Homo sapiens: one gene and its partner. The protein of the gene in region 1 interacts with the protein of each later gene in a biochemical or structural test. Each region holds a gene or a part of one and is shown on either strand. Other genes may lie near its edges.

The links.
Region 2: the proteins of RAB5B (region 1) and RIN2 form a complex in vitro, tested with the Homo sapiens proteins (one study listed by BioGRID).

Annotation. Positions count from the first base shown.
Region 1 is NC_000012.12:55,975,552-55,991,530, forward strand, and holds part of RAB5B (ras-related protein Rab-5B), read left to right. Parts: intron 1-3,820; coding exon of another isoform or gene 3,821-3,923; intron 3,924-11,317; coding exon of another isoform or gene 11,318-11,409; coding exon 11,410-11,572; intron 11,573-14,395; coding exon 14,396-14,547; intron 14,548-15,130; coding exon 15,131-15,253; intron 15,254-15,808; coding exon 15,809-15,902; intron 15,903-15,979. UniProt on the Homo sapiens protein: The small GTPases Rab are key regulators of intracellular membrane trafficking, from the formation of transport vesicles to their fusion with membranes.
Region 2 is NC_000020.11:19,749,604-19,765,536, forward strand, and holds the start of RIN2 (ras and Rab interactor 2), read left to right. Parts: upstream 1-8,654; 5' UTR 8,655-8,724; intron 8,725-15,933. UniProt on the Homo sapiens protein: Ras effector protein. May function as an upstream activator and/or downstream effector for RAB5B in endocytic pathway. May function as a guanine nucleotide exchange (GEF) of RAB5B, required for activating the RAB5 proteins by exchanging bound GDP for free GTP.

The DNA of each region.
Region 1 (15,979 bases):
TGCAGTGAGCCATGATCTTCCCACTGCACTCCAGCCTGGGCAACAGAATGAGACCCTGTCTCCAAAAAAAAAAAAGACAAAGATTGCCAAAGCAGAGGAGTGGAGTACCCTCCTCCCCACATATTTTTAATGGTCTGCTAGCCTTCTTAGTCCCTCATAGATTGGAGCCTATTGGATTTTCCCTTACTGTACTTCCTCCTTTTCTGCGTCTCTACCAATATATTTTATCACTACATTTCTTTTTTTTTTTTTTTTTTTTTTGAGACGGAGTCTCACTGCAACCTCCACCTCCCAGGTTCAAGAGATTCTCCTGCCTCAGCCTCCCAAGTAGCTGGGACTACAGGCGTGCGCCACCACGCCCAGCTAATTTTTGTATTTTTAGTAGAGACAGGGTTTTACCATGTTGGCCAGGATGGTCTCAATCTCTTGACCTCATGATCCGCCCACCTCGGCCTCCCAAAGTGCTGGGATTACAGGCGTGAGCCACCACACCCGGCCATCACTACATTTCTTAATTACAAAAGTTAATATGTACATATTTTAAAATATGGAAGGTGTACAGCAGTTTAAGAAGTATAAATCCTCCCACACATACCTTATTCATATTTCATTTAGGAAGGTCAAGGATCAGAGACAGCAAATCAGACTAATCTTGCTTTGCTTTGGGGGATGTGTCACAAAAGGCAATTGTGTTTTCATGTTCTCATCAAACTCTAGTCTTATTCTTTCTACAGTTTTCCCTTCTGGGATGATACTCTGTTATTTATTGTGTTCCTTTCACAGTTCATTTTGTCTTCTACCAAGTCCGACAAGCAGAGGGCTGTACTGTGTGTTATTCACCTTGAGTACACACAAACACACACACCCCAAGTTGTGTGCTGGGTGTCCTAGGAAGTGCCCAAAGAGATGGAACAAAACTTTATGGGGAGAAAGGATCATTTTGGTTGGGATAATTGTTGGCATCTCTGCTAAAGAAAGGAATTTCAGACCCTTATCTCAAATTCATGGTCTCTGGATGTTCATGGTCTCTGCATGTTCACATTACTTGACTATCCCTTTCTTATCCATGATGATGATGGTTCTCCTAAGAGGCCCCTGTATTTGTCTTTCTTTTCTTTTCTTCTATTTTTAGAGACAGGGTCTTGCTTTGTCACTTAGGCTGGAGTACAGTGTGTGTCTTTCTGTAGGGATCTGAGAAGCTCCAAGCTTATCTGGATTTGAAATCGGTTTTCCTCTAAATCTCAGAGTCAGAGTACAGCTGGGGCATTTCATACTACCACCTTATTAATTGAATTTGTCCTTACTAGCTTTAAAAGCCCTCTGTTGTACCCAGCCTTTGTACAGCGCCCATTGGAAACCTCGGTTTTTTCCCCCAAGGAACTTTTCTCACCTGCAAGCCAGTCCTAGAGACAGTTGTGTAGGAGTATGTGTGTGTGTTTTTAGACGGAGTTTCACTTTTGTCACCCAGGCTGGAGTGCAGTGGCATGATCTCGGCTCACTGCAACGTCTGCCTCCTAGGTTCACGCGATTCTCCTGCCTCAGCCTCCAGAGTAGCTGGGATTACAGGCGTGCACCACCACGACCAGCTAATTTTTGTATTATTAGTAGAGACGGGATTTGACCATGTTGGCCAGGCTGGACTCTAACTCCTGACCTCAGGTGATCCACGTGCCTCAGCCTCCCAAAGCACTGGGATTACAGGAGTGAGCCACCGCGCCTGGCCGTGTGTGCGTGTGTGTGTGTGTGTTTTAATCCTATCTAATTTTTCCAACAGTTTTTTGCATCCTAAGAGAGTTTAGGAGTAGAATTATCAATAAGGAATTTCATACATAGACCTGGAGTTGCAAAAATATATTTGGAGAAGAGAGCTTTCCCATTGCCCTTCAAGTCATACCTCATATCTTTTAAAATTTTTTTCCTGGACAATCCCTACTGCATAACATACCTCATATCTTCTAACTCTTACTTTACCTGGGAGCAAATATTGCTTATTGGTATGAATTTTACTTCTGAGAAGGAGGCATAGGGTAGAAGAAGCAAGCGTATAGTTTGCTCCCTAATCCTAAAGCATTTCAGATTGGAAGGTAACCAAAGTGTGAGACAATGAACTTATAATAAGGAAATGCAGCAGCCCTCTTGGAGGAAGGATACCATAAAACCCTACATGGTATACTCCCACTTCCGTTTTGGGAAAGATTTAGCCATTGACTCAACAGTAACTGAACTGAATAAGGAGCTACCCAGGTGAACAAAGTATGTGTACATTTCTGGGCAAGGTTGTAGCTTCTGTTCAGGGACAGTGGGTACCTTTTCAGAGTGTCTCCTGGTTCTGTGGTGTTATGGCTCCTTTTTTTAAACTTGTGTTTCTCAAGTCAGGAATTAATAGATAGTGGCCCAAAGCTTTTGACCGTTCAACATCAACTGAAAATTCAGCGAACTTTGTTTTTAGCTATAGTTGCCTCAGTGTTTGGGTGGGAGGGCCACATATTGGGTGTGATTAGGCCATCTGAGGCATAGTAACGGGTGACAGGAAAAGCAGTTAGCCCATGCGAGTTGCAATAGTACCTTGTGGGCAAGATCCCAAGGGGGCCCTCCATCCAAGGGAGATCACAGAGGAGCCAGGGAGAGAATTGATTCTGAGGCCTATTAAAAATATTCCCAAATGGGGCCGTGTGCGGTGGCATGCGCCTGTAATCCCAGCACTTTGGGAGGCTGAGGCGGGTGGATCACGAGGTCAGGAGATTGAGACCATCCTGGCTAACACGGTGAAACCCCGTCTCTACTAAACAAAATACAAAAAATTAGCTGGGCGTGGTGGTGGGCGCCTGTAGTCCCCCAGCTTCTCGGGAGGCTGAAGCAGGAGAATGGCGTGAACCTGGGAGGCAGAGCTTGCAGTGAGCCGAGATCGCGTCACTGCACTCCAGCCTGGGCGACTGAGCAAGACTCCGTCTCAGGAAAAAAAAAAAAGAACCCAAATGGAATTGAGTAAGATCTGTCCAGATGGTACAGAAAGGGAGGAGTTGATTGGGGGAGAGAAGTAGAATTACTTAGCCTTAATTTAGGGAGCATTTAATGAGCACCTACTAGGGATCAGGCAGCATGCTGTGCTCTGAAGATTTTAAGATAAACTCCCACTTTTAAAGAAGTTCATAGTTTAGCAGAGCAGACAGACACAATTTATATACTGTGATAATGTGATACATACTATTATAGAAATACAGTCTTTTTTTTTTTTTTTTGAGACGGATTCTTGCTTTGCTGTCCAGGCTGGAGTACAGTGGTGCAATCTGTGCTCACTGCAACCTCCGCCTCCCGGGCTCAAGCAATTCTCATGTCTCAGCCTCCTGGGTAACTGGGATTACAAGCCTGTGCCAACATGCCCAGCTAATTTTTGTATTTTTAGTAGAGACGGGGTTTCACCATATTGGCCAGGCTGGTCTCGAACTCCTAACCTCCAGTGATCCATCTGCCTTGGCCTCTCAAAGTGCTGGGATTACAGGTGTGCGCCACCACACCTGGCCAGAAATACAGTCTTAATACTGTGGGACCCTACGGGCCTCTAGAGAATGATTAATTCTGTGGGGGAGAGGGTGATTATGTAATTTCACTGAAGTAACATTTGAGCTTGGTCTTATGAGATATATAGAATTTTGCTAGGCAGACAAGTAGGGACGGGCATTCCAATCTTACCTAGGTCAATAATAGGGAGTTTGTACTACCATACTGATAAGAGGTAAGTATGCTTTTTGCCTCTTGGAGAAATATAAGGGAAAGGGTGCGAGATGTGGAAGGAATCTCATTTAATCCAATGACTCATTAGGTAACACTGGATCAACAAAATGAAGAGCTGAGCCAAGTGGTAGAACTCTCATTTCAAGATTTTGGTGACTTGGGTTTAAACAGAGTTGGAGAGGGAGATGAAGGTATTTACTGGTTTCTGCTCTATCTTCCCTACTTAGTAAAACTCTCACATTAATCGCAGGGCCCACCAAATTCTGCAAAAGTTACCGCTTGTTTTCCTATTGCCTCTCATTGAATTGCTTCTATTTCAACTGTCCTGGCAGGGTTTGGTCATAGACCTTCTAGAAAAGAGTAGTGATGAATTAATTCTTCTGTCAGAAAGATATGGGACTGCATCCCAGTTGCCAAGGAAGGCCTGGGTCTTCTTAATTTGTTTTTAGTCCCAAAGCAAGTACTTACCTAAACTGAATAGAGGCAGGAACTCTATCCAGTCTAAGCTCTCGATCCTGTCCTGGTGTTCTCTTTAGAGTTCAGCATTTCCTGCTTCCTTAAGAAGTATAGTGGTATAAGAGGCAGGAGTACCTGACTAGGAGTCCTACATTTACTGCTTAGCAGTTGGCTGTATGGTAACACTTGACAAGTTGACTAATTTTATTTTATTTTTTATTTATTTATTTATTTTTTGTGCAAATGGTGGCCTTTAATACCAAGAAAGACCATGACAAGTGACAGAACAGGAGCAAATTCCCTAGTGTAGTGCCGAGCTAGCCCTTTGCAGGACCCTAAAACCTGATCTAGTAACAGAATAAATCAGTGTATTTACATTTATGTTTGCCCTGAAAACCCAGGTAAGGTCTGAAGCCTGAGGCATCTCTCCTTCCTTTCCTCCTCCCTCTCTTCCTACCTCCTTGCCTTCGTTCACTTCCTCAATTCATTCCTCTCCCTTCTCCCTTCCTCTCTTTTCCTTCTTTTCCTTTCTGCTTTTCCCTTTTCTCCTTTTTCTCCTCATTCTCTTTACCATCTACCTATGTGTCCCTCCAAGCCCCTCTGCTATTTCTCCCCTGCTCACTCCCTCTGCTGTTGTCTCCCTCAGGTTCAGCTTCCGGGGTGGGGAGGCAAGAAAGGGTCCTCAGCTCAGGGAGCACTTGTTGGTGTTCTTTATGTCACAAGTTTTCAGGTCAGTACTGGGAGGCTTGTTGCCGTTTCCTGATCTCCGGCCTCCTGACTTGAGCAAGATGTCCCGGGCCAGGGAACTAAAAGCCTCATCCACATTCATACTGGATTTAGCACTAGTTTCGAAAAATCGGATTCCATGCTCTCGAGCCAACTTATCGGCCTGCTCCTTCTGCACCTTCCTCTTGGCCTCCATGTCACATTTGTTCCCTAGCAAGAGGTGCTCCACCCCAGCTGAGGCATTCTCCATGATGCTTTTCATCCAGTTCTGAATATTCTCGAAAGATTTCTCATCCGTGATGTCGTATGCTAGGATAATGCCCATGGCTCCACGGTAGTAGGCAGTAGTTATTGTCTTGAACCGCTCTTGGCCAGCTGTGTCCCAGACTTGTAGTTTGATCTTCTTCCCCTCTATATCCACAGTGCGGATCTTGAAATCAATTCCGATGGTGGAGATGTAAGTGTTGTTGAAGTTGTCCTCTGCAAAGCGAATGATCAGACAAGTCTTGCCCACCCCCGAGTCCCCGATCAGCAGCAACTTGAAGAGGTGGTCGTAGGCTTTGGCCATGGCGGACACCGGGGGAGCCGGGGAAGGGATGGGGCTATTTATTTATTTTTGAGACGGAATCGCTCTGTTGTCCAGGCTGGAGTGCAGTCGTGTGATCTCGGCTCACTGCTACCTCTGCCTCCCAGGTTCAAGCAATTCTCGTGCCTCAGCCTCCTGAGTAGCTGGGATTACAGGCACGCACCACCACACCCAGCTAATTTTTGTATTTTTAGTAGAGACAGGTTTTCACCACGTTGGCCAGGCTGGTCTCAAACTCCTGACCTCAGGTGATCTGCCCATCTCGCCCTCCCAAAGTGCTAGGATTACAGGTGTAAGCCACCACGCCTAGCCCAAATTGACTAATTGTATGTGTCTCGGTTTCCTCACCTATAAAATATAGAGACTGGACTAAATGACCTCTAGACTGGCTCTGATCTGCCTGACTGACCTTAAGGCTGACAACTGGTACTGGGTTGGACTCCAGTGGCTATATATACCGAGAACTCTGTCTCTGTTGATAGGTGATAGACTTCTGGAGACTTCATATGTATTTGGTTTAGGGACTCAAAGCTAACAAGTGGAAGGGGGCTTGAGGAATGGAGTCTTACTCTAGCTGGGACTGCTAAGACACTTTTACTGTTATGCCTACTTTGCTGCACTGCTTGGGAGAGTTGCCCACATTAAAGAACATCCTCCATGGGTCTCCTGCATCTAGTGGGCTAACCCATGGTCAGGCCTCAATCCTCCCTAGTTAATGGGTCATTTTATAAGTCATTCTTGTAGAGCCGTACTTCTTTTTTTTTTTTTTTGATGGAGTCTTGCTCTGTCACCCAGGCTGGAGTGCAGTGGCAAAGTCTCGACCCACTGCAGCCTCTGCCTCCCAGGTTCAAGCAATTCTCCTGCTTCAGCCTCCCAAGTAGCTGAGATTACAGGTGTCAGCCACCACACCTGGCTAATTTTTGTGTTTTTAATAGAGACGGGGTTTCACCATGTTCGCCAGACTGGTGTTGAATTCCTGACCTTAGGTGATCCGCCCACCTCAGCCTCCCAAAGTGCTGGGATTTCAGGCATGAGTCACTGCACCCGGCAGAGCTGCACTTCTAAGGGAAGTTAAATCTGATTTCTTCTCTTCTGAGCTAAAAAGGTTGAAAGGAAGAGAAACCTGCCCCATCTCCCTTTTTTTTGTCTCGGGTTTGAAGGTAATAATCATCATACCACTTGACTGGTTTACCAAAAAAAAAAAAAAAAATTAGTATTTTTGTGGGAAAAAATGAGAATAGAAAATAAATAATTGAATCTTATATGTATTATTTCATTTCTGTACCACAGAATTTTTGAGAGTCTAGCTATTATATTTTTTAAATGATACCCTTATAAACATGATAAGATTAAAGATCAAAGCTTAGAGGTGGCTCAACAATTGCTGTGAACAGGGAGGAAGGCAGGACATATTCTTTCTTTTTCAGAGGTGGGATCTCACTATGTTGCCCAGGCTGGTCTCAAACTCCTGGGCTCAAGTGATCCTCCTGCCTTGGCCTCCCAAAATGCTGGTATTACAGGCGTGAACCATGATGTGCAGCCAGAACATACTCTTAAGGCTACATATTAGGGTACGAGGTAGTCTTTTCTAAGTCAGTAGTTACTGATCTCTGAGAATCCAAGGTTGCTTAGTAGCAAGAAAGCTTGCTGACCACATCTGGGCTCTGGCTTGACTTCCCATCTCTGAGAGTTAGTGACAGAGACTTTGCAACTCAAGCGTGTCTGCAATTGTTTCCTGTCTTTACACTCCCCCAGAGCTCAAGTGATATGTTTAGCCATGAGAATTCAGTCCATTCTAACTCCCACATTTTCCTTTATTGTAGAGTAGTAACATTGAGGCTTAATATTCTACCCCTTGGATCACATGCTTTGAAATACATAAAAATGTAAGGGAGTAAGTTGAAAAAACCAGTAACTTTTTCTATTGTTTCTTGAGAGTATAGCATATATATGTCACCTGAAGGAAACTTGATCAGCTTATCATCTGTCCTTTTTTTTTTATTATGGTGTCACCTGTCTTCTCTTTTATTTATTTTTTATTTTGAGAGACGGAGTCTTGCTCTGTTGCCCAGGCTGGAGTACAGTGGCATAATCTCAGCTCACTGCAACCTCCGCCCTCTGGGTTCAAGCGATTCTCCTGCCTCAGCTTCCCAAGTAGCTGGGACTACAGGCATGTGGCGCTACACCCAGCTAATTTTTGTATTTTTTAGTAGAGACGGGGTTTCACTATATGTTGGCCAGGCTGGTCTCAAACTCCTGACCTCTCAAACACCAGAGTGAGACTCTCTCTAAAAATGGAAAATAAATTTTAAAATGTTATAATTAAAGATACTCATTTAAATTGAATAAATTTAGCTTTATGAAAAATTTGCTGTATCATCTTTATTTTGATCCTTTCGTCATAGGCCATTGAAAACTTAATCATAAAATGGTACATGTATATCTGAATTTTTAAGACTGACTGACCAAGGGGACTACAGAATACCCAGTAGAATCAAAGTAATTGTCATGTTCCTCTGTATTAATCTAGTCTACTTTGGGACCTTGAGTTCTCACCTCTCATTCTTTTGCTAACTTCCTCTTTACCCTTTAGTTATGTCTCCTTTTTTTTTTTTTTTTTTTTCCAGAGATAGCGTCTTGTTCTGTCGCCCAGGCTGGAGTGCAGTGGTGTAATCAGCTCACTACAACCTTCAACTCCTGGGCTCCAGTGATTCTCCCACCACAGCCTCTGGAGTAGCTGGGATTACAGGCACATACCACCATGCCCAGCTAATTTTTTTAAATGTTTTCTAGAGACTCAGTCTCGCTATGTTGCCTAGGCTGGTCTCAAACTCCTCACCTCAAGCAAGGCTTCCCCTTTTATCTCCCAAACCCCTGGGATTACAGGCATGGGCCGCTCTGCCAGGCCTGTTTTTTCTCTTTTTCTTTCTCTGTACCACTTTCATATTGTGGCTTCTTCCCTGCCCCCGATCTCCCCCCTACCCACCCCAGGTGGAGTCTTGCTCTGTTACCCAGGCTGGAGTGTGGTGGCACGATCTCGGCTCACTGCAACCTCCGCCTCCCGGGTTTAAGCAGTTCTGCCTCAGCCTCCCGAGTAGGATTACAAATGCCGGCCACCAACCACACCCGGCTAATTTTTTTTTTTTTTTTTTAGACTGAGTCTCGCTGTTGCTCTGTCGCCAGGCTGGAGTACAGTGGTGCAATCTCAGCTCACTGCAACCTCCACCTCACAAGTTCAAGCAGTTCACCTGCCTCAACCTCCCAAGTAGCTGGGACTACAGGCACGCGCCACCACGCCCAGCTAATTTTTGTATTTTTAGTAGAGACGGGGTTTCACCATGTTTGCCAGGCTTGTCTCAAACTCCTGACCTCCTGATCTGCCTGCCTTTGCCTCCCAAAGTGCTGGGATTACAGGCGTGAGCCACTGTGCCCGCCTTTTATTTTTTGAGACGGAGTCTCGCTCTGTCACCCAGGCTGGAGCACAGTGGCGCATCAGCTCAGTGCACCCTCTACCTTCTGGGTTTAAGCGATTCTCCTGCCTCAGCCTCTGGAGTAGCTGGGATTACAGGTATGCACCACCACACCCAGCTAATTTTTTTTGTATTTTTAGTGGAGACGGGGTTTCACCATGTTGGCCAGGCAGGGCTCGAACTTCTGACCTCAGGTGATCCACCTCAGCCTCCCAAAGTGCTGGGATTATAGGTATGAGCTACTGCACCCAGGCTGTGGCTGCTTTTTAGGAATATATTGATAACAACTAATATTGAGATATATTTTAATAGCTATTAGCACTATGCTAAACACATCTTTCACTTATTATTTGTAGCTATGAGGATGGTATTTTTTCCATTTTACAAAGGTAGAAGGTAAGGCTTAGAGAGGTAGAGAAATTCTCTTTATATCATATTAGTAATGATTAGTAGCTTAATATTTATTTAGCACTTAGTATCTATCAAATACTTAAAATACTTTAGTTATTTATATGCATTATCTCATTTAATCCTTACAACACCCTTATGAAGTAGGTGCTTATAAGGCTATTATCTCATTTTACAGATGAGGAAATGAATGCACACATATATTTAGTGACTTGCTCAAGGTTCATAGCTAGTAAGTAGAGCTGAAAAACAAACGTGGAGAATTGGACTCCAGAGCCTTTATTCCTCTGAATTGCCTCCTGTATGATTTTCTGTCTTTACGATCTAGTAAGTGGGGTTACTGAAAATTTTTAACCCCAGTTTAACTCCAGTCCCACTAATTGTGGTGACAAAATAATGATGTTTCCCCACATATGCCATAGAGTATGATGTCTGTGAAGTCACTAGGATCTGCTTTGGAAAAGCGAAAGAGTAATTTGAACAAGCAAAGTACAACTCTCAAGCAATGCTTAGGTTTGGGAGAGAGGTTTTTGCATGCTCTGCCTATGCTAACTTCCCTTTGAATTTCATAGTTCCTTTCCGCTCAGAGTCAGGATGATGAAATGTATTCAGATTTAGACGATTAGAATCTCAAAGTCCCAACTCTTCTCTCTGTTCCCTGCCCCACCAGCAGCTTTCTTAGCCCTCTTAGAAGATAGAGGAGCTGATTCAGTGTATTCTTTCATCAAATACTGATTGCTTGCAGACTTAACGCCCTATACCATCCTCTGGAGACTTCTGCATGTCTTTAGAAGGTATACCTTTCTCTGCCTCTAATTTGGAGGGCTACAGCTGTTAGGCCCCTTTGGTGTGGAGGGTAATCTAATCCCTAGGCACCAGCAAGACAGCTGCAAGTTGAGAGTAGGTCAAGCTTACTGATTCTTGATAGACTTTCAGATTTGGAAAGATGGCAGAAACAAAGTGAAAAAAGAGTTGTTAATGAAACAAAGAGTTGATAATGAATGTGATCTGTTGGTTGTATTTCTCTCTTTACCTTCAACCAAAAATGAGAAAGGATAGATTTTGTGGCAATGGGACCCTGGTTAGATCTTTAGAAATGTCTTATCAGGGAGACCGGTCATATATAAAGGATACAGCAGCAACTACCCTTCTGCCCTTAGGAGTGGTGACTCTTATCCCACACCCCTAGAGTGAATCTCTCATTTTGACAAAGAGCTAAGGAAAAATGAAAAGAAGGCCAGGCACGGTGGCTCATGCCTGTAATATCAGCACTTTGGAAGGCCAAGGCGGGCAGATCACCTGAGGTCAGGACTTCTTAGACTAGTCTGACCAACATGGAGAAACTCCGTCTCTACTAAAAATACAAAATTAGCCAGGCGTGGTGGTGCATGCCTGTAATCCCAGCTACTCGGGAGACTGAGGTGGGAGAATTGCTTGAACCCGGGAGGCAGAGGTTGTGGTGAGCCAAGATTGTGCCATTGCACTCCAGCCTGGGCAACAAGAGTGACGTCTCAAAAAAAAAGAAGAAAAGGAAAAGAAGAGCACAGCACCAGGATGCCAAGGAGATACTGGGGATCTAGGGTACCGGTGGGTGGATCTGGATATTCTTCAGGCCAGCTAAAGGTTGATCACTTTGTGTGACTCAAACAAAAAACTTTGAAGACCTGGTGGGGAATTACTGGGGAATTAAAAACTCTCAGTTTTCAGTCTCTCTATTTCGGCTCCCTTGGCAGTTAGAGATTATGTGGTAGGGCAGACTCCAGAAGCAGTTCTTATTTTGCTCTTCCCAACTCTTACCACTGAGGATCAGCTGCCTGGGACCTTCTCAGAGCTAAGTCCTCATAGAAGCAAGGAGATGAAGAGGTTCTATCCTTCTCTGAAAAGCGATTGCAGCTTCAATGGACGTATGTTTAATTTTATTCACTTTTTTTTCTTGCAGGAGTGTTGAAGCCTGGAAATCCCCTCCCCTTCCCCCTCCCCCCTTTACAGTATCCCCCTCCCTCCACCCTTTCCCATTCTGATAATCTGGCCATGACTAGCAGAAGCACAGCTAGGCCCAATGGGCAACCCCAGGCCAGCAAAATTTGCCAGTTCAAATTGGTCCTGCTGGGAGAATCTGCAGTGGGAAAGTCAAGCCTGGTATTACGTTTTGTCAAAGGGCAGTTCCATGAGTACCAGGAGAGCACCATTGGAGGTGAGTGCCTTGGGGTAATAGGAGATTGAATGTTTGGTAAGGGTTTTTTTTTTTTTAGATGGAGTCTTGCTCTGTTACCCAGGCTGGAGTGCAGTGGCGCAATCTTGGCTTACTGCAACCTCTGTCTCCCAGGTTCGAGCGATTCTCATGCCTCAGCCTCCCGAGTAACTGGGATTACAGGTGCACACCGTGGCACCTGTCTAATTTTTGTATTTTTAGTGGAGAGGGGGTTTCACCATCATGTTGGCCAGGTTGGTCTCAAACTCCTGACCTCAGGTGATCTGCCTGCCTCGGCCTCCCAAAGTGCTGGGATTACAGGCGTGAGTCACCACGCCGGGCCGGTAAGGCTTTTGAAAAGAGATATAAGACCTGATTATGGAGCTGGCCCTCTTAGTCCCATTCTTTTCCCCAGAAATGGAAACCCTTTATAAAAACAGAGGCCGGTCCCAGTGGCCCACCACTTTGGGAGGCCAAGATGGGCGGATCACCTGAGGTCAGGAGTTCGAGACCAGCCTGCCCAACATGGCGAAATCCTGTCTCTACTAAAAATACAAAAAATTAGCCAGGCGTGGTGGCAGGCGCCTGTAATCCCAGCTACTCGGGAGGCTAAGGCAGGAGAATCACTTGAACCCAGGGGGCAGAGGTTGTAGTGAGCCGAGATTGCGCCACTGCACTCCACCCTGGGCGACAAGAGCAAAACTCCATCTCCAAAAAAAAAAAAAAATCAAAATCTGGTAAAATAGGCTGGGCATGGTGGGTCACACCTGTAATCCCAGCATTTGGGAGGCCAAGGCAGGCGGATCACTTGAGGCCAGGAGTTCAAGACCAGCCTGGCCAACAAGGTGAAATCCCCGTCTCTACTAAAAATACAAAAAATTAGCTGGGCGTGGTGGCACATGCCTATAATTCCAGCTACTCAGGAGGCTGAGGTAGGAGAACTACTTGAACCCAGGAGATGGAGGTTGCAGTGAGCCAAGATTGCGCCATTGCACTCCAGCCTGGGTGACTAGAGTGAAAATCCGTCTCAAAAAAACAAAACAACAACAACAACAACAAAGATTAGCCGGGCATGGTGGCACATGCCTGTAATCCCAGCTACTTGGGAAGCTGAGGCAGGAGACTCGCTTGAACTCATGAGGCGGAGGTTGCAGTGAGCCAAAATCACGCCAGTGCATTTTATCCTAGGCGAAGGAGCGAGACTGTTTCAAAAACAAAAAAAAATCTGGTAAAATAGAGGCTGGAACTAATGCAAAATACAAAGGGTGTCTGTCTTTCTCATCTTTGCTACCTTTTCCCCACTACTACCCCAAAATAGGGTGCTAATTCAATAAAGGATCTTTTATGAGAACTTCCAAATTATTCCTTCCCCTTGTTATTTTTATTTATTTATTTATTTATTTTTGAGACGGAGTCTCTGTCGCCCAGACTGGAGTGCAGTGGTGCAATCTTGGCTCATTGCAACTTCTGCCTCCCAGGTTCAAGTGATTCTCGTGCCTCAGCCTCCTGAGCAGCGGAGATTACAGGCACATACCACCATGCCCGGCTAATTTTTGTATTTGTATAGAGACAGGGTTTCACCGTGTTGGCCAGGCTGGTCTCAAACTCCTGACTTCAAGTGATCCACCCGCCTCGGCCTCCCAAAGTGCTGGGATTACAAGCATGAGCCACCGTGCCTGGCCTCTTTCCCCTTTTTATTAGTCATCTTGGAAATGTATTCCTGGACCTGCAGCAGATTATATGAAAAAGTAACAGCCAAATAATATTGATAATGATGGGACTTGCCATCAAGCTTTAAAATCTTCTAATTAATTCTTTTTTTTTTTTTTTTTTTTTTTGGATACTGAGTCTCACCCTGTTGCCCAGGCTGGAGTGCAGTGGTGCAGTGGTTGCCCATTGCAACTTCCGCTTCCCCAGTTCAAGCACTTCTGCTGCCTCAGCCTCCCAAGTAGCTGGAATTACAGGCGTCCATCACCATGCCTGGTTAACTTTTGTGTTTTTAGTAGAGGCGGGGTTTCACTATGTTGGCCAGGCTGGTCTCGAACTCCTGACCTCAAGCCATCCACCTGCCTTGGCCTCCCAAAGTGCTGGGATTACAGGCATGAGCCACTGCGCCCAGCCAATCCTCTAATTAATTCTTTTGTTTGTTTGCGTTTGTTTGTTTGTTTTTTGAGACGGAGTTCCGCTCTTGTTGCCCAGGCTGAAGTGCAGTGGCGCCATCTTGGCTCACTGCAACCTCCACCTCCCAAGTTCAAGGGATTCTCCAGCCTCAGCCTCCCGAGTAGCTGTGATTACAGGTGTCCACCACCACGCCTGGCTAATTTTTGTATTTTTAGTAGAGACGGGTTTTGCCGTGTTGGCCAGACTGGTCTCGAACTCCTGACCTCAGGTGATCCACCTGCCTCAGCCCCCACCTCCCAAAGTGCTGGGATTACAGGCGTGAGCTACCGTGCCCAGCCCAATCTTCTAATTAATTCTTGATGTGACTTTTATCTGAAGCTATTTTCTCTGTCATTTGTTATTCTCCTATTTTGGTTAGAAGAAGGATGACTCGTATAAGTGCCAGTTCTTCTGTCCCTCTTAGTTTATGATGTACCCCCATTCCTTAGCTAGTGACATTTCTGGCAGGAAGGACTTAGCCAAGGGCAGTCTTAATCCTGGTTTCAAGACTTACATGTAAGGAGAACTCAAAACCTTTTCCTGTAGCTGACTATCCTGGGTGGTGACTGGTCTTAGTGTAGGGCAGTTACATTTTGAAGGGGGGGAGGGATGTTCCCATTCATCCTCCCACTTACAGCATCTTCCCCTCCATTCTCTCATCCATAGCGGCCTTCCTCACCCAGTCCGTTTGTCTAGATGACACAACAGTGAAGTTTGAGATCTGGGACACAGCTGGGCAGGAGCGATATCACAGCTTAGCCCCCATGTACTACAGGGGTGCCCAAGCTGCAATCGTGGTTTACGACATTACTAATCAGGTAAGTGAGCTAAGAAGACTGTCCTTGTTGGCTGGACATGGTGGCTTACGCCTATAATCCCAACACTTTAGGATGCCAAGGCGGGAGGATCATGAGGTCAAGAGATTGAGACCATCCTGGCCAACATGGTGAAACCCCGTCTCTACTAAAATTACAAAAATTAGTTGGGCGTGGTGGTGCGCGCCTGTAGTCCCAGCTACTCGGGAGGCTGAGGCAGGAGAATCGCTTGAACCCAGGAGGCGGAGGTTGCAGTGAGCCGAGATCGAGCCACTGCACTCTAGCCTCGGCGACAGAGCAAAACTCCGCCTCAAAAAAAAAAGAAAAAAGACTGTCCTTGCTTATATTTAGAGGAGTTAGTTTGGGGCAGGGGGTAAGGGGGCAGAAAACGGGTTCTTGAAATAGCAAATAAGAGTACAAATTATGCTTCCAAGTGCTAAGAAGACAGATAATGAATTATCAGAGACCTGTGGTTTCACTGAGGGAAGACCACCTAGAAGAGGTGAATTTTGAGACTCATTTTAAAAGGTGATGGATATGGATTGGCAGTCATTCCAGCCTACTCATTCTCTTCATGTTTTCCTAGGAAACCTTTGCCCGAGCAAAGACATGGGTGAAGGAACTACAGCGACAGGCCAGTCCTAGCATCGTTATTGCCCTGGCAGGGAACAAAGCTGACCTGGCCAACAAACGTATGGTGGAGTATGAAGTAAGGTGGCCCGTGGAGTTCCTCTCTAACACTTCCTCTGTTCCTGGGACCTCTTTTTTTCCAAACCAGCCCTCTCTGAAAACGTCAACAGAGGACATTCATTGTCTCATTCCCCAGTTCTACACCAAGTTAAATACAGCAACACTGTGACCCTAATGACAGCCAGGAGATTTTCAAAGGAGTCAGGAGAAAACTCCAGAGCAGAGGGTTAGGGAGGTACCAGCTGTGGGGGTACCAGTGTGAAAACAGGAAGGAGGGAGCAATTAAATTTGTGGTAAGGGACTATTCAAGTGTCACAACCCAAAAGCCCCCAACTAACTTACCCTCTCCCCTATAATTAAGCTTTCTGACATTTGTGTGTTGGACTGAGTGGACATGGGGTCATCTTGAGGGAGTTGTCATTAAATTATGCATCTAGGCTAGCTGGCTCAAAGGGGTATTAATTAAGGGGAGGGAACCTAGGATTTTGCCTAGCTGTTGTGCTGCATGGGAGTGGAAAGGCAATACTCGTTCCCACCCTACATTCTGAGCACTAATACATCCCACTCCTTGCAGGAGGCCCAGGCATATGCAGATGACAACAGCTTATTGTTCATGGAGACTTCAGCCAAGACAGCTATGAACGTGAATGATCTCTTCCTGGCAATAGGTAAGGTCAGAACATCCTGAGGTCCTCCTTTTTCCCTCGTTTATAGGCAAAATTATAGCTAACCCAAATCAAGGATA
Region 2 (15,933 bases), on another chromosome or scaffold:
AAGGCATTCTTAGTCACAGGATGAGACAGGAGGTCAGCAGAAGATACAGGTCACAAAGACCTTGCTGATAAAACAGCATGTGGTAAGGAAGCACGCCAGATCCCACCAAAACTGAGATGGGGATGAAAGTGACCTCTGGTTGTCCTCATCGCTTTTTATATGCTAATTATAATACATTAGCATGCTAAAAGACACTCCCACAAGCTCCATTAAAGTTTACAGATGTCATGGTAACATCTGGAAGCTACCCTATATGAACTAAAAAGGGGAGGAAACCTCAGCTCCAGGAATTGCCTATTGCTTTCCAGGAAAACTCATGAATAATCCATTCCTTGTTTAGCATATAATCAGGAAGTAACAATAAGCATAAGCAGCTGAGTAGCCTAAGCGGCTACTAAGAAACTTTGCTTTTACTTTACTCTATGGATTTGCCTCCAATTTTTTCTTGCATGACAGCCAAGAGCCCTCTCTTGGGACCTGGATCGGGATCCCTTTCCGGTAATGCTTTTTCTTCAGATTAACTAAGGATTCATATAATATTTTAAATATTTAAATAATTCATAAACATGCAACTTGAAAAGTTAAGGGCCCATGCCAGGCACAGTGGCTCATGCCTGTAATCCCAACACTGTGGGAGGTCAAGGGAGGCGGATTACTCGAGCCCAGGATTTTGAGACCAGCCTGGGCAATATGGTGAAACCCCGTCTCTACAAAAAATACAAAAATTAGCCAGGCATGTTGGTGCTCGCCTGTAGTCCCAGCTACTTGGGAGGCTGAGGTAAGAGGATCACTTAAGCCTGGGTGGTGGATGTTGCAATGAGCCAAAATTGTACCACTGCACTCCAGCCTGGGTGACTGAGAAAGACTGTCTCCAAAAGAAAAAAAAAATGTTAAGGGCCCAGTAATCCCACACTCCAGGGATAATCACTGACTCCTTTCTTTGAGATTCTGAAACAAAGATATAAGTTAAAAAGTAGAAAGAATGTATCTTTTTCAATGTCCCTTCCTTCTTAGAAACTCCTCTCTCTTGTGAACCATATCTTTGGAGAGGGAGATGCAGTTATATAAGCACTGTTTAGGTAATTTCTAATACATGGAAATAGTTAAGTATCTTCTGATATTCTCTACTGTCTTCTGGGGTAGCTATGCTATGGTGCTTGAGCAGGGTAATGTTACCCAGTATCAGCAGCCACCAACAAAAAAGAATTGCCATAATGATTATGATGATGATTTTATAGCGCAGGGTCCAGAGTAAAAAATTGCACTTTTCAAATCATTTACACATGACACTCACTTCTACCTGTTCTGCTCAGCAGAGAGGAGAGGAGAGGAGAGAAACAAATTGCTGAGTTGCCAGCTCTGGGCAATGCTTCCAGAACCAACAGTGCTTGGTTTACTTTAAAGGGGAAATAACTTCATTAGAAATGACATTTTCTTGGCTAGCTGGTCCCCAAGCCTGCAAAAGTGCCCCATGAGCACTTGTGCTCTCTGCAGCTGACTGAAGCGGCCACTTGAGTCTCTTGGGACCCTCAGATGGGAGGTCAAATCTGCCAAAAATGAGATAAGTCCATGTGTCCTCACGGGTTTTCTTTGATGAGTATCTCTGTTATAAGTGCAGCCTCCCCAGCACTCTCTCTTCCTCTTCCTGGTTTAGCTTGAATACTGTGGCTTGACTACCACACATTCACCTTGTTTGTCTGGTTTATTGCCTCTCCCTCCCGATTAGATTGTGAGTTCAGAGAGAACAAGGGGATTTTTCTGTTTAGCTCACTGCTGTAGCTCCAGTGCCTATGACAGTGCTTGGCGCATAGTAGGTACTCAATAAACACTTTTGAATAAATAACCCCCGAATTCATTTCTATGGTAAAAGATGTTTTCCTGGGGAAGGGCAGAGCAAAATGGCCCCCAAGTTCTGGAAAAGACTGAGATTCTAGGACCATCCATGCATGGAGCAATGTGGGCAGAGGAAGCATGTTTTCAAGAGAGTGGGTGGAAGGGGAGAAAGGAAAACTTGACAGGAAGAAAGGAGCAGAGGCCGGGTGTCTTCAGCACTTACCTGGCACCCTTTATCTATAAAACCGGGTCCCTCTGCAGCTGAAAAAGGAAGAGAAGAGAGAGGGACATGGGGCCAGGTCTACCTGTCTGTCCACTTCTCCCTTTTGCCCATGTATCCAACCTCTTAGGAATTGCTGTCAGCTCAACCTTCAAAATAATTAAGAATCCAACTACCTCTCTCCACCACCCCTGCTCTGAGCCTGCTACCAGCCACCATCTCTAGCCTGAACTATTTCAATCGCCTCCTCGCTTATTTCCACCTCTGCCCGGACAGTGGGCTCTCCAAACAGCATTAGACTGAGCTCTCAGCAATAACAGATCAGGTTATCCTCTGCTCAAACCCTTACGGCTCAAATCCCACCTTCCCTGAGGACTACTCTGACCACACTTTCATGCGCGTCTGTGTGAAGAGACCACCAAACAGGCTTTGTGTGAGCAACATGGCTGTTTATTTCACCTGGGTGCAGGTGGGCTGAGTCCAAAAAGAGAGTCAGCAAAGAGTGGTGGATTATTATTAGTTCTTATAGGTTTTGGGTTAGGCAGTGAAGTTAAGAGCAATGTTTTGTGGGCGGGGTGGATCTCACAAAGTACATTCTCAAGGGTGGGGAGAATTACAAAGAACCTTCTTAAGGGTGGGGGAGATTACAAAGTACATTGATTAGTTAGGGTGGGGCGGGAACAAATCACAATGGTGGAATGTCATCAGTTAAGGCTATGTTTACTTCTTTTGTGGATCTTCAGTTACTTCAGGCCACGTGGATGTATACGTGCAAGTCACAGGGGATGCGATGGCTTGGCTTGGGCTCAGAGGCCTGACATTCCTGCCTTCTTATATTAATAAGAAAAATAAAACAAAATAGTGTTGAAGTCTTGGGGCGGTGAAAATTTGTGGGGGTTGGTGTGGAGAGAGAATGGGCGATGTTTCTCAGGGCTGCTTCGAGCGGGATTAGGGGTGGCGTGGGAACCTAGAGTGGGAGAGATTAAGCTGAAGGAAGATTTTGTGGTAAGGGGTGATATTGTGGGGTTGTTAGAAGAAACATTTGTTGTGTAGAATTATTGGTGATGGCCTGGATATGGTTTTGTATGAATTGAAAAACTAAATGGAATAAGAGAAGGAGAAAAACAGGTATAAAAGGTCTAAGAATTGGGACGACTCAGGACATCTGATTAGAGAGTGCCTAAGGAGATTCAGCATAGCCCTGCCAGCAAAGATTATTTACTTCAAGAGTTAAGAATGGCAGTTTGGGGATAGCACGAGGCAAGCGTGATCAGGGTGAGGAACAGCAAAGAAGGAAATATGGGGAAATGGGGTGAATATCAGGTGGATCAGAGAGATACAGTCATGGGGGTCAGGTGTGGTATCAGGAATAATGTGGGAGGCCAGATTGAAGTCCGGGCCAGGAACAATGGTAATTGTGGGACTTAAAGAGTGAGTACAGCTGAAGGAGCCGGGGAGCAGAAAGTATATGTGTCAGGTATGAGGAAGAAAATAGATTTTGGAAGTTATGAGAAATGTAGAGAGTGAGTTGAGCATAGTTTGTGATTTTTAGGGCCTCTAACGGTATTAAAGCAGCGGCAGCCGCTGCACGCAGACATGAGGGCTAGGCTAAAACAGTAAGGTCAAGTTGTTTGGACAGAAAGGCTACACGGTGTGGTCCTGGCTCTTGTGTAAGAATTCTGACCGCACTAACCATGCCTAGGAAGGAAAGGAGTTGTTCTTTTGTAAGGGATTGAGGTTTGGGAGATTAATCGGACATGATCAGCAGGAAGAGCACATGTGTTTCTATGAGAATTATGCCGAGATAGGTAACAGATGAGGATGAAATTTGGGCTTGACTGAAGTAATGGGGGCTGTCCGCGAAGCCTTGCGGCAGTACAGCCCAGGTAATTTACTGAGCCTAATGGGTGTCAGGGTCAGTCTAAGTGAAGGCAAAGAGAGGCTGGGATGAAGGGTGCAAAGGAATAGTAAAGAAAGCATGTTTGAGATCCAGAACAGAATAATGGGTAGTAGAGGGAGGTATTGAGGATAGGAGAGTATATGGGTTTGGCACCACAGGGTGGATAGGCAAAACAATTTGGTTGATAAGGTGCAGATTCTGAACTAACTTGTAAGCCTTGCCTGGTTTTAGGACAGGTGAAATGGGGGAATGGTAAGGAGAGTTTATAGGTGCCCATGCTGTAGCAGGCGAGTGATAACAGGCTTTAATCCTTTTAAAGCATGCTGTGGGATAGGATATTGGCGTTGAGCGGGGTAAGGGTGATTCAGTTTTAATGAGATGGTAAGGGGTGCGTGATCAGTCACCAAGGAGGGAGTAGAGGTCTCTTATACTTGTGGGTTAAGGTGGGGGAATACAAGAGGAGGACGCAAAGGAGGCTTTGGATTGGGAAGAAGGGCAGCAATGAGATGCGGCTGTAGTCCAGGAATAGTCAGGGAAGCAGATAATTTGGTTAAAATATCTCGGCCTAATAAGGGAAGTGGGCAGGTGGAGATAACTAAAAAAGAGTGCTTAAAAGAGTGTTGTCTAAGTTGGCACCAGAGTTGGGGAGTTTTAAGAGGTTTAGAAGCCTGGCTGTCAATACCCACAACAGTTATGGAGGCAAGGGAAACAGGCCCTTGAAAAGAAGGTAATGTGGAGTGGGTAGCCTCCATATTGATTAAGAAGGGGACGGACTTACCTTCCACTCTGAGAGTTACCCAAAGCTCGGCGTCCGTGATGGCCTACGGGGCTTCCGAGGCGATCGGGCAGCATCAGTCTTCAGCCGCTAAGCCGAGAAGGAGTCAGTCAGAGAGCCTCGGGCCAGAGTTCCAGGGGCTCGGGGAGTGGCTGCCAGGTGAGTTGAACAGTCTAATTTCCAGTGGGGTCCCGCACAGATGGGACACGGCTTAGGAGGAATCCTGGGCTGCAGGCATTCCTTGCCCTGGTGGTCAGATTTCTGGCACTTGTAGCAAGCTCCTGGGGGAGGAGGTTCTAGAAGAACGCCTGGCCGCTGCGGTTCAGGCATTTGGAAGTTCTTGTATGCTGGAGATGTGGCTGGGGTTTGTCTCACAGTGGAGCCAAGGAATTGCAACTTTTTTCTATTATTGTACACCTTGAAGGCGAGGTTAATTAAATCCTGTTGTGGGGTTTGAGGGCCGGAATTTAATTTTTGGAGTTTTATTTAATGTCGGGAGCAGATCGGGTAATAAAATGTATATTGAGAATAAGATGGCCTTTTGACCTTTTAGGGTCTAGGGCTGTAAAGCGTCTCAGGGTTGCTGCCGAACGAGCCATGAACTGGGCTGGGTTTTTATATTTGATGAAAAAGAGCCTAAACGCTATGTGATTTGGGATAATGAAAAAGGAGCATTAACCCTGACTATGCCTTTGGCTCCAGCCACCTTTTTAAGAGTAAACTGCTGGGCAGGTGGGGGAGGGCTAGTCACAGAATGAAACTATAAGTCGGACCAGGTGTGGGATGAAGGGAGGGGAGGCGCGGAGGCTGAGGAAGAATTGGGACCTAGCTTGGGCTGGCGCGGAGGGGAGAGGTCAGATGGGTCTGTAGAAGAGGAAGATTAGAAAGACTCAGCGCCGCTTGGGGTTGGGACTGAGGGGACAGGAGGGAGGGAAAGAAGGAAGATTTGGGACGAGTTGCACGGGGCACAGAGACTAGGAAGGGACTGATGTGTAAAAGAATGCCTGGACGTCAGGCACCTCAGACCATTTGCCCATTTTACGACAAGAATTATTTAGATCTTGTAGGATGGAAAAATTGAAAGCGCCGTTTTCCAGCTATTTGGAACTACTGTCGAGTTTGTATTGGGGTCAAGCGGCATTGCAGAAGAAAATAAGGCATTTAGGTTTTAGGTCAGGTGTGAGTTGAAGAGGTTTTAAGTTTTTGAGAACACAGGCTAAGGGAGAACAAGGAGGAATGGAAGGTGGAAGCCTACCCATAGTGAAGGAGGCAAGCCCAGAGAAAAGAGTAGAGACATGGAGAAGGGGTGGGGAGTTCTTGCCCTCCAGAAAAGCAGAGAAAGGGTTGGGGCACGGAAATAAGGGATTGGGGCACAGAGATAAGAGGTTGGGGTGCGGAAATAAGCGATTGGGAGGTTCTTGCCCCTAGGAAAGCGGGACTTGCCGCTAAGGGTGAAGGAGAAGGGGTTGAGGGGTACTTGCCCCTGCCCCAGGAAAGGCAGAGAAGGGGTAGAGACAAGGAGAGAAGGGGTTGGGGTACTTGCCCCTTCCCCAGAAAAGCAGGACTTGCCGCTAAGGGTGAAGGACCAAGGCAGGCGTCCCTGCGTGGTCTGACACCCTTGAAACGTGGGTGTATAATCACAGAGGCATCCCTGCAATGATTAAACACCAAGGGAAGGCTGCCTTCCCAGTCCGTGACCGGCGCCGGAGTTTTGGGTCCACGGATAAAACGTGTCTCTTTTGTCTCTACCAGAAAATGAAAGGAATTGAAATTAAGAGAAGGGAGAGATTGAAGTGTAGCGCCAAGATTGAAAGGAGAAAGAGGTTGAGGGATAGTGAGGCAAGTTGGAGAAGAGAGTAAAAAGAGGCCGCTTACTGGATTTGAAATTGGTGAGATGTTTCTTGGGCTGGTCGGTCCTGAGGTCGTAGGTGGATCTTTCTCACAGAGCAAAGAGCAGGAGGACAGGGGATTGATCTCCCAAGGGAGGTCCCCCAATCTGAGTCACGACACCAAATTTCATGCGCGTCCGTGTGAAGAGACCACCAAACAGGCTTTGTGTGAGCAACATGGCTGTTTATTTCACCTGGGTGCAGGTGGGCTGAGTCCAAACAGAGAGTCAGCAAAGAGTGGTGGATTATTATTAGTTCTTATAGGTTTTGAGATAGGCGGTGAAGTTAAGAGCAATGTTTTGTGGGCAGGGGTGGATCTCACAAAGTACATTCTCAAGGGTGGGGAGAATTACAAAGAACCTTCTTAAGGGTGGGGGAGATTACAAAGTACATTGATTAGTTAGGGTGGGGCGGGAACAAATCACAATGGTGGAATGTCATCAGTTAAGGCTATGTTTACTTCTTTTGTGGATCTTCAGTTACTTCAGACCATCTGGATGTATACGTGCAAGTCACAGGGGATGCGATGGCTTGGCTTGGGCTCAGAGGCCTGACACACACCATCTATTTAATTCTGTGACCTGCTCCAGACACAAGCACTCTGGGCCCCCATATTCTTTTTCTTGTTTTCCCTATCACCGACCTCTTCCAACACCCCAAATAATTTACTTAGGGATGGCCATGGTTTACCCTCTGTCTCCCACTTCTTCCCCGCAGGCCTTCAGCTCCCCCAGGTGAGGGAGACCTTTGCTTTGTTCACCGACATATCCCAAGCATTAGAACTGCGCCTGGCACCAGCAGGTGTTCAATTATTTATTTAATGGGTGACTTGGAGCAGAAACCGAAGTGCAGTGGACTGTTTTCCTGGGATCTGAGCTGATGATAAATGATAAATAAGTCTTGGGATTTTAGAAGGCAGGAATCACGAAAACCAACACCAATGAAATCCAAGTCTCCTCTGCTACTATCTGAAGTGGAACAGAACAGAAATAAGGTCTGTTTTCTTTCCGCTTCGCTGTTCTGTTTCTGTCCAAAACAACCGTCTCTCTGACACCTTCGAGGTGTCCCTTTGTCTCTTTGAGGTTCCCTCCGTGACACTGGCTACTTTGTAACTCTAACACTGTCAGCAATTAATTCCCAAAGGTGAGGTCCCCGTGGGAAGTGGGAAAACCCAGCGAATCACCAGGGACCCGCCTGATTCCGAAAAGGCTGGATGCTGGCTGGGAACCGGCCCCGCAGCTCCGGCGTCCCCGCCTGCCTGCGCGGCCTTCAGCTGGGGTTACGGAGGGCTCCCAGCGCCGATCCAAACCGCGTTCCAGGCGGGGTGGGCGGGCCCCTGGCCAGCGAGGCCGAAGCAAAACAACCCGCCCAGGCGTCCAGAGCGTATCCAACCCTGGAGAACCTGCCCCGGAACCAAGAGCCGCAGCCAGCTCAGGCCTCTCGAGTGGGGCCTTTCCAGCCCCTGCAACAGATCCCGGGATCTGTAGTTGGGCGGAGGGGCTCGTTATGGGAAAGGGGTGCGTGCGCGTTTGTGCTAAAACAAGAAAGGCAAGAATCTCCGAGAACAAAACTCTGGTCCTCGCCTGGCCGGGGACCGCAGAAGACAGGGGCGGCAGCGCCAAGGCGGGTCAGGGGCCGGTCCAGCCAAGTTTGCTCCGGCTTAGATAAACTTTCTGATGGCAGTTTTTCCTGGTTGCAGCCTGGGTTCCTTGTAACAGGGTAAGCGTAGCGGGTGGTTGTCAAGAGGGGCGGAGGCTGGCGGTTACAGGGAATGGAGGGATGGGCCGGACCTGGGGTCGCGCAGGCGCCTTGGTCGCTGCCTCCGATCCGATCACCCCCGCCCCATCTCCTCTGCGAGCTCAGGAAGGTGGCTGGGGGAGGGGGATGGCTCCCTACTGCCGAGGGACGGCCCGAGGCAAACACAAAGCCCTTCCCTCCCCTCCTCCTCTTTCCTCTCCTCTCCCCTCCCCTCCCCTCCTTTCTCCCCCTTCCTCCTCTTCCTCCTCCTCCTCTTGCTCCTCCCGGGCGGGGAAACCCAGCCCCGCGCTCGTCTTTGGGGCCACCGGTCGCCCCCGCCTCCGGGACCTGCGGGGAGGGCCCGCGAGAGGTAAGGGGCGGTGGCAGCGGAGACCCCACCCCCTGTGCCCGCACCTAGAGAGCCCGGAGAGGCTCCGGGCACGGGCGGGGCTCTCTGGGGTTCCAGACGTGGGTGCTGCTGTGCGCACTCTCTCCCTACTCCGGAGGGGACTTGAGGAAGACAGCCAGAGCGCGTCCTCGGGGATCGTGGGGAACGGAAGGGGGAAGGGGGATCAGGGAGTGGGGACAAGGGGCAGAGTGACATTCCGGAGCGCGAGGTGGCCGCTGGTCCCGGCAGGGTCACCGGGTGTCCTCAGCTGACCTGTGCGGGGCTGGGGTGAGGGACAGCTGGAGGGTGCAGGCACTATGGCTCGAGGTGCGGAGGTGCGGGTGTGCGTGCGTGTGCACCGGACGGAGTTTGGTAGGGACCTTTGAGGAGTTCTACCTGCAGGGCTGCCTGTGGGGTGTCAAGTGCTCCCTGCGCCTGAGCGCGCGGGTCAGACCCGGTGTCGCACAGCTTTGATCCCCAGCGCGGACCCCACTGGTGAGTCCAGCCAGTGTGCAGGGCAGATGCTCCGACCGGAGATTTCCTCCCCCGGGTGGAAAAGCAGGAGGGTTGTTGTGTCCGGGCAGGGGGCACTTGGGCTGTCGCGGTGATTGATGGCTGCGCAGCGGGCGGAGGAGGAGCCCCGGATTCCTGCCGGGAAGGGACGGGGCCACTTTCCCACTTTGAGGCCTCCCCGCCCCCTTCTGGGCTTGGCCTCCACCCTTGGCCTGGGCTCCCACCAGCTCGGCGTCCACCCACCGGCGGTGGCGCGCCCCTCGACCGCGCGGGGACAGCAGGATTTGCAGAAGTTCAGCTTGAAAGCCTATGATATGTTGCCAAGAAATACAGGGCAAGATCGGTCCCCTGGGCCCTGAGAGGCGCCTGTCTTCTCAGAGCTCTTAAATCCCTGGGGCTTTCCTAATTCCGCAGTGTAGCGGCACTTCCTTGCGCGGTTTTGGGCACATTGGGGTTTCTTAGGAACACGCTGTCATCGGTAAGGAAACATCAGAGTACTCTTCGACCAAAAGGACTGTAAATACTGAAGCAAAAAGAAACACTTGCTGGGAGTGCAAAGGGCTTACTGGGAAAAAAGAAACACACAGGGCAGCACTCCATCATTAAGATAAATAGTATTTTAATACAATCTTTTTAACAAAACCAAATTGAATGTAAAAAATTCATGATAAGCAAAAATCAACATTTTAAATACAGGTGGGTGTTGTTAGAACCCTGCTTCATAGGCCGGGTGCAGTGGCTTATGCCTGTAATCCCAGCACTTAGGGAGGCCAAGGCAGGCAGATCACTTGAGGTCAGGAGTTCAAGACCAGCCTGGCCAACAGGGTGAAACCCCATCTCTACTAAAAATACAAAAATTAGCTGGGCCTGAAGGCATGTGCCTGTGGTCCCAGCTACTCGGGAGGCTGAGGTGGGAGAATCACTTGAACCTGGGGGCAGAGGTTGCAGTAAGCCGACATTGTGCCACTCCACTCAGCCTGGGTGACAGAGTGAAACTCTGTCTAAAAAAAAAGAACCCTGCTTCATTGTTCAATGGGAACAGTCATATCCAGTCTCCCTCCCCCACCTCCCCATTTGTTTGTTCCCTTGCCTGGTGGTTTGAGAGTTGACAGTGGCATGCAACAGATTGAGCAACTCTGGCTTCAGATGTAGTCACGTTCACTGAATGCAGAGCTTTTATTAACTTTTTACCTAATTCAAATGTAGGAGGATATTGTCATAAGTGGATATAGAGGTGCTAATTTTCCTTTTTGCCTCAGGTTCCAATATTGCCTCTGGAATACTCATGCACTCCCGTGCTTTGGCACCTCCAGAGAGAGCATCACAGGCTAGGGATGGGTAGGGTCCCGGGACAGTGAAGGGCCCTTGCTTTTGGAACTTGGGAAGAAGGCTGTTGACAGGAGCTTTTGGGTTTGGAGACTTGCTCTCAGTAGTTGGAGGCTGGAGACACGGGGAAAACCAACCTGCTATCAAGACCTTTGTCTGGAAACATTCTCCTGCAGACAGTTCATCAGAGCAGAGGAGGAAACTGAAATAGCCCACACTTGACCTCTAGTGTAGGGCAGGTGGGAGGGAGCTTGACTCCCAGGATGGCTATGGCGTGTGCTTATTTAAAGATAACTTCGCAGCAGCACTCTTATCCCCACCCAAGGTGTCCTGCCATACACCTTATCCAAAGTCAAGGGTCACTACCCACTTCAGGACTTCCACTTTCCAGAAAGAACCTCCTTGCTTAGCTAAACCCTCTTCCTCTGCTTGGAGGACACAGATGAATCAGGTATCACAGATGAAACACAGGGTATGCTACCCTGAGAGGTCCATGCTCGTGTGACCCATTAATGGGAGGCCCATTCTTCACATACTCTCTGTATTATAGTGCTTTGACCTTGTGCCCAATTCCCCTTGTATATCCAACCTACCTAATGAACCTTCAAGAATCCTAATAGTTTCAGCAAGAAAGATTTCCCCGACCCTGTCCTCCTTTCCCCAGTAAGACACCCCCTCACTGCCACCAGAATTCCTTGTGTGTGTGTATGTGTATGTATCTCTTAAAGCAATACAGTGGACCTCACTTGCCCACTGTCTGTAAGCTTCCCAGGGTCCAAAACCAGGCCATAGCCCTTAAGACCTACCACTCAAGGAGGGGGTGTTGAATGAATGAATGAACAAAAGTGTCCCTTTGTCAAGGCATTTTGAGAAGTTGCACAGCAAGAAGTATACCCTCAGGACTGTAATGCCTCTGAAGAAAGCAGGTAACATTTTTGTAGCACATTATAAAATGGATTTACAAATAGTATCTCAGTCGTTTCTCACAACAGTAGTATTCATTGCATTTTGTAGGTGAGGAAATGAAAGCCTAAAATTAGTCTGTCATTCTGCCGCAGCACAGTGGACTTGCTAAAGGCGAACCTGCCCAGAGGCACACTCCATGCAGTGTATGTACAGAGCAGGATTCACCGAGTTGTGTTTTAGGATGCAGTTTTGCTAAACAATCACTAATGAGTTACAGTGATAAAATATGTTAGGGAAATGCTAATGTTGTCTGTTTTTTTATGGCAGGACTTTAAGGAGTCTTTATTGTTATACCATACATTGGGACTCTTTAGAATGACACCATAGTATGGGATGCTTGCCAACTTTATTTGGCCACAGAACACTCTTTCTCATGAAGTATCTTCTGGATCCAGTGTTCCAAGGAATTCACCTAGGGAATTGTTTAGTTCTCCCAAAATCTTATAATGTCTAGGCCAACTTCCAAGGAATGTTGATTCCATCTAATATGTGGTATTTTGGATAGTAAAAATGTATATTCTGGACACTAGAAAAGCATAATAATCCACCCTTGTCAATTTAGAGTGGATTGTTGATCTGTGTATCCAATTAACTCAAGTAGCTTCCATGCATCCGATTAATATGAATAGGTTCTTTGGGTTTGATCAGATATGATCTGAGGGAACCCCAGCCTCTGGAGAGCACTGCCTTTTTGCTGCCCAGAAGCCTTCAGATTTCAACCAGCCTTTCCAACTCTGAGAATCCCCTCAAACGCAGCTCTGTAGATGGGGTGGCAACTTCAGGGTTCTTGTCCTGAGATCACTATTTCATCTTGGCTAGTTACATCCATTGAGTGAGAAAGTACACCTGCTCAGTGAATTTTCTGTTCTCTCATTCCTCTCTCCTTGGGTGCTGGCCAAGTGAATTCTCTAGGGTGTCTAAGTGTGTGTGGACATTTGCTTATGAAAAGTAAGTAAATGTCACTCTCTGGGTGTCTCAGACCTGGAACAGAAGCCTGCTAACAGCAATCCCTCCTCATAGGAGCTGCAGCCCCCGTTCACAAGCAACCATTGTTTGAAATCAGGTATTTTTAAATCAGAGTTTGCCTTCAATCTACTGTTAGAGCACCTTCCACAGACCAGTAACCTCAGCTATTGAGGCTTTATTGCAATTAAGGAGACAAAGTGAGGAAGTTGGAGTTAGAATTTCAGGGACTCAAAGGAGAATTGTGGGCTAGTGGAGGAGCCTTCGGAAAGTGATCAAAGAGGCACAGCTGTGCAAATTTAACATTCATCTGCAGACATTTCTAGGTCTCCAATGCTGAGCAAATATATCTCAAGATTTGTTTCGTAGATTTTTCGAAAGCACAAAAAGTAACAATTCTCATTTAGAGATATGTATTAAACAGGGTGGTGTCACAGAAGTCAAGGGAAGGAGTGTTTTGAGAAAAATGGACCTATCAGATGGGGCGGGATGGGGAGTGACAAGGGGAGTTGAAGAAGATGACTAGAAGGCTGATGGGTCATTAGCCAAGCCGTGGAGTTCAAGTGTGTGTGTGAGCATGCACATGTCATCGTGCTGTGCGAACAAGGGAGAAGGTAGGGAAGAAACACTGAATGTGATTTATTTTATTTATTTATTTATTTATTTAGAGATAGAGTTTCGCTCTTGTTGCCCAGGCTGGAGTGCAGTGGTGCGATCTCGGCTCACTACAACCTCCACCTCCCGGAGTCAAGCGATTCTCCTGCCTCAGCCTCCTGAATAGCTGGGATTACAGGTGCCCGCCACCACACCTGGCTAATTTTTTGTATTTTTAGTAGAGATGGGGTTTCATGATGTTGGCCAGGCTGGTCTCGAACTCCTGACCTCGGGTAATCCACCCACCTTGGCCTCCCAAAATGCAGCAATTACAGGCGTGTGCCACCATGCACAGGCCTAAATGTGATTTTTAACCTGTTGAGTTTAAAAGTCCTGGCCAGGTGCAGTGGCTCATGCCTGTAATCCTAGCACTATGGGAGGCTGAGGTGGGCAGATCACTTGAGGTTAGGAGTTCAAGGCCAGCCTGACCAACATGGTGAAACCCTGTCTCTACTAAAAATACCAAAAAAATTAGCTGGGCCTGGTGGCAGGCCCCTGTAGTCCTCGCTACTTCAGAGGCTAAGGCAGGAGAATCCCCTGAACCCGGGAGGCAGAGGTTGCAGTGAGCCAGGATCACTCCATTGCACTCCAGCCTGGGTGACAGAGCAAGACTCTGTCTCTAAATAAATAAATAAATAAATAAGATATATATGTATATCAGCACAGAGAAGTGTGGAATGTCAGCTGAAAGTGTGAATAGAACCACACAAGTGAATACAGCCGCTAGCAAAACCACTCAATAGCATAATCACATAATGAATGAGTGAATGAATGAATGAATGATTAAATGACACTGTTTTTTGTAGCAGAAACTGTTTTTAAACTCACTAATAGTTAGGTGAAAGTTTAAACACAGTCATTTTGTGAAAGAGTCTAAGAAAATAAAATTGAATTTTTTAACGCTGTGGGTATTCCAGCCTGTGTGAGATGTCTTATTCTGGTCAAAAAGCTTTGGTTGTAAGAACCTCCATTACTAACGTTGAATGATGCTCCATGATTGAGAGCCCCTGATTCAGTTTGATGTAGGAATGGTTATAAAGGTATGCTGGTTTGTTTTAAAAACCATCCTAAGAGTGATTTAAAAGACGTTGCTGGACTTTATAGTATCCAAATGAGAAACGGATTCGGGAGGTGTTCTAATTCCTACTATGAGTGTATATCTCATTTTTATTTGATGATACCATCTGGCCAAGTGATAGTACATGGAGTATTAATACATAACCCCCCACTTGCTTAAAATTCTCAAAATTTGAGTCATTTCAAAAATCAGATTTGGAAACATTTGTATTTTTAATGAGTGAAGTCTTTTTTTAAGTAAGTTAATCCAATAAATTGGATAAAGAGACTTTTTGTTTTTTATGTACCTGATTTTATTTGGTAGATCAGGAATTCAAAATTTAAAAAAAGCTAGATTAAATAGTTAGCTAGATGAACTTTAGTTATTAAAGAAATTGTTACCGATTTTTCCCAAATACTGAACTCCCCCATTGCATTTTAACTATGGCTCGATTACAAGAATACTTTTAAAACATGAATGGAAGCAGACATCTGTCCTGTGTGGTAACTGAGGGCAGCTGTGCATGGAAACCTTTGAGTCTCGGAAAGTCAGCCAGGATCCCACACCAGGGGAAGTTGAGTGCTGAGACCAGTCACCTCGTCTATGCAGGACCTAGCAGTCCTGGGTGTGTCTGACTTCAGCACACCCATGTCCAGATAAGGGACGTGGAACCTAAACGCTCATCATCTTGCTATCCAGACTTTCCTTGCTTAAGTGCTAAATGTTTATCGCTTCAGCGATACACATTTTGTTATACAAAATCTTTAACCTTTTGCATCATCAAATGTTTGTGCTTTTTCTTAAAATTTCCTTAGTGGCTCTTCTGCATAGAAAACCTTTCCACTTCCTCAATCAATTACCTAGCCTTTTATATTTTCTTCTAATGTTTATGCTTTCAGTTTTTCAGATTACTATTTAAATTCATTTGAGATCATTTGGCAGGTGGTTTATAGAGTAGGAACAAAAGTTTATTCCTTTTTCCCCATAGTTTTCCCCTAGGTCTGGCATCATTTGGTGAATAAACCTGCCTTTCCCCAGCTCCATAACACATACAAATTCTACTAGGAAGGGCAAGTCCCACTTCACTTTCTGCGTTTTTTTTTTTTTTTTTTTTTTTTTGACAGAGTCTTGCTCTGTCTCCCAGGCAGGAGTGCAGTGGCATGATCTCAGCTCACTGCAACCTCTGCCTACCAGGTTGTACTTTTAGTAGAGACGGGGTTTCACCATGTTGGCCAGGCTGGTCTCGAACTCCTGACCTAAAGTGATCCACCTGCCTCAGCCTCCCAAAGTGCTGGGATTACAGGCGTGAGCCACCGTGCCAGGCCACTTTCTGCCCTTTTATCTTCTCCCCCACCCCCAAATCTTCTTGGCAAATTCACTTATTAATTCTTCCAGTGAAATTTTATTCCAGGGGATTTGTTTGGAATTATATTAAGCCTAATTTGGGAAGACCCGAAAGATAGTTTGGGATCCTCTTTTTCTGGGAAACCATGACATTGAATTAGAGCCAGTGGGCATTGATTGTATGTGTTCAGGCCACACATGCACACTGATCCCTGGGGTGGCTGGTGAGGAAGGCACAAACCCAGACTGGAGGAGACTGGCTTCTGGTTTCAGCTCTGCTGGGAGGTGTGGGACCTTGGCTGGCTCAAAGGTTCATTTGCACTCATGTGTGTAGGCGCTCCTTTAGGATTCCAGGCTTCAAGGACCTA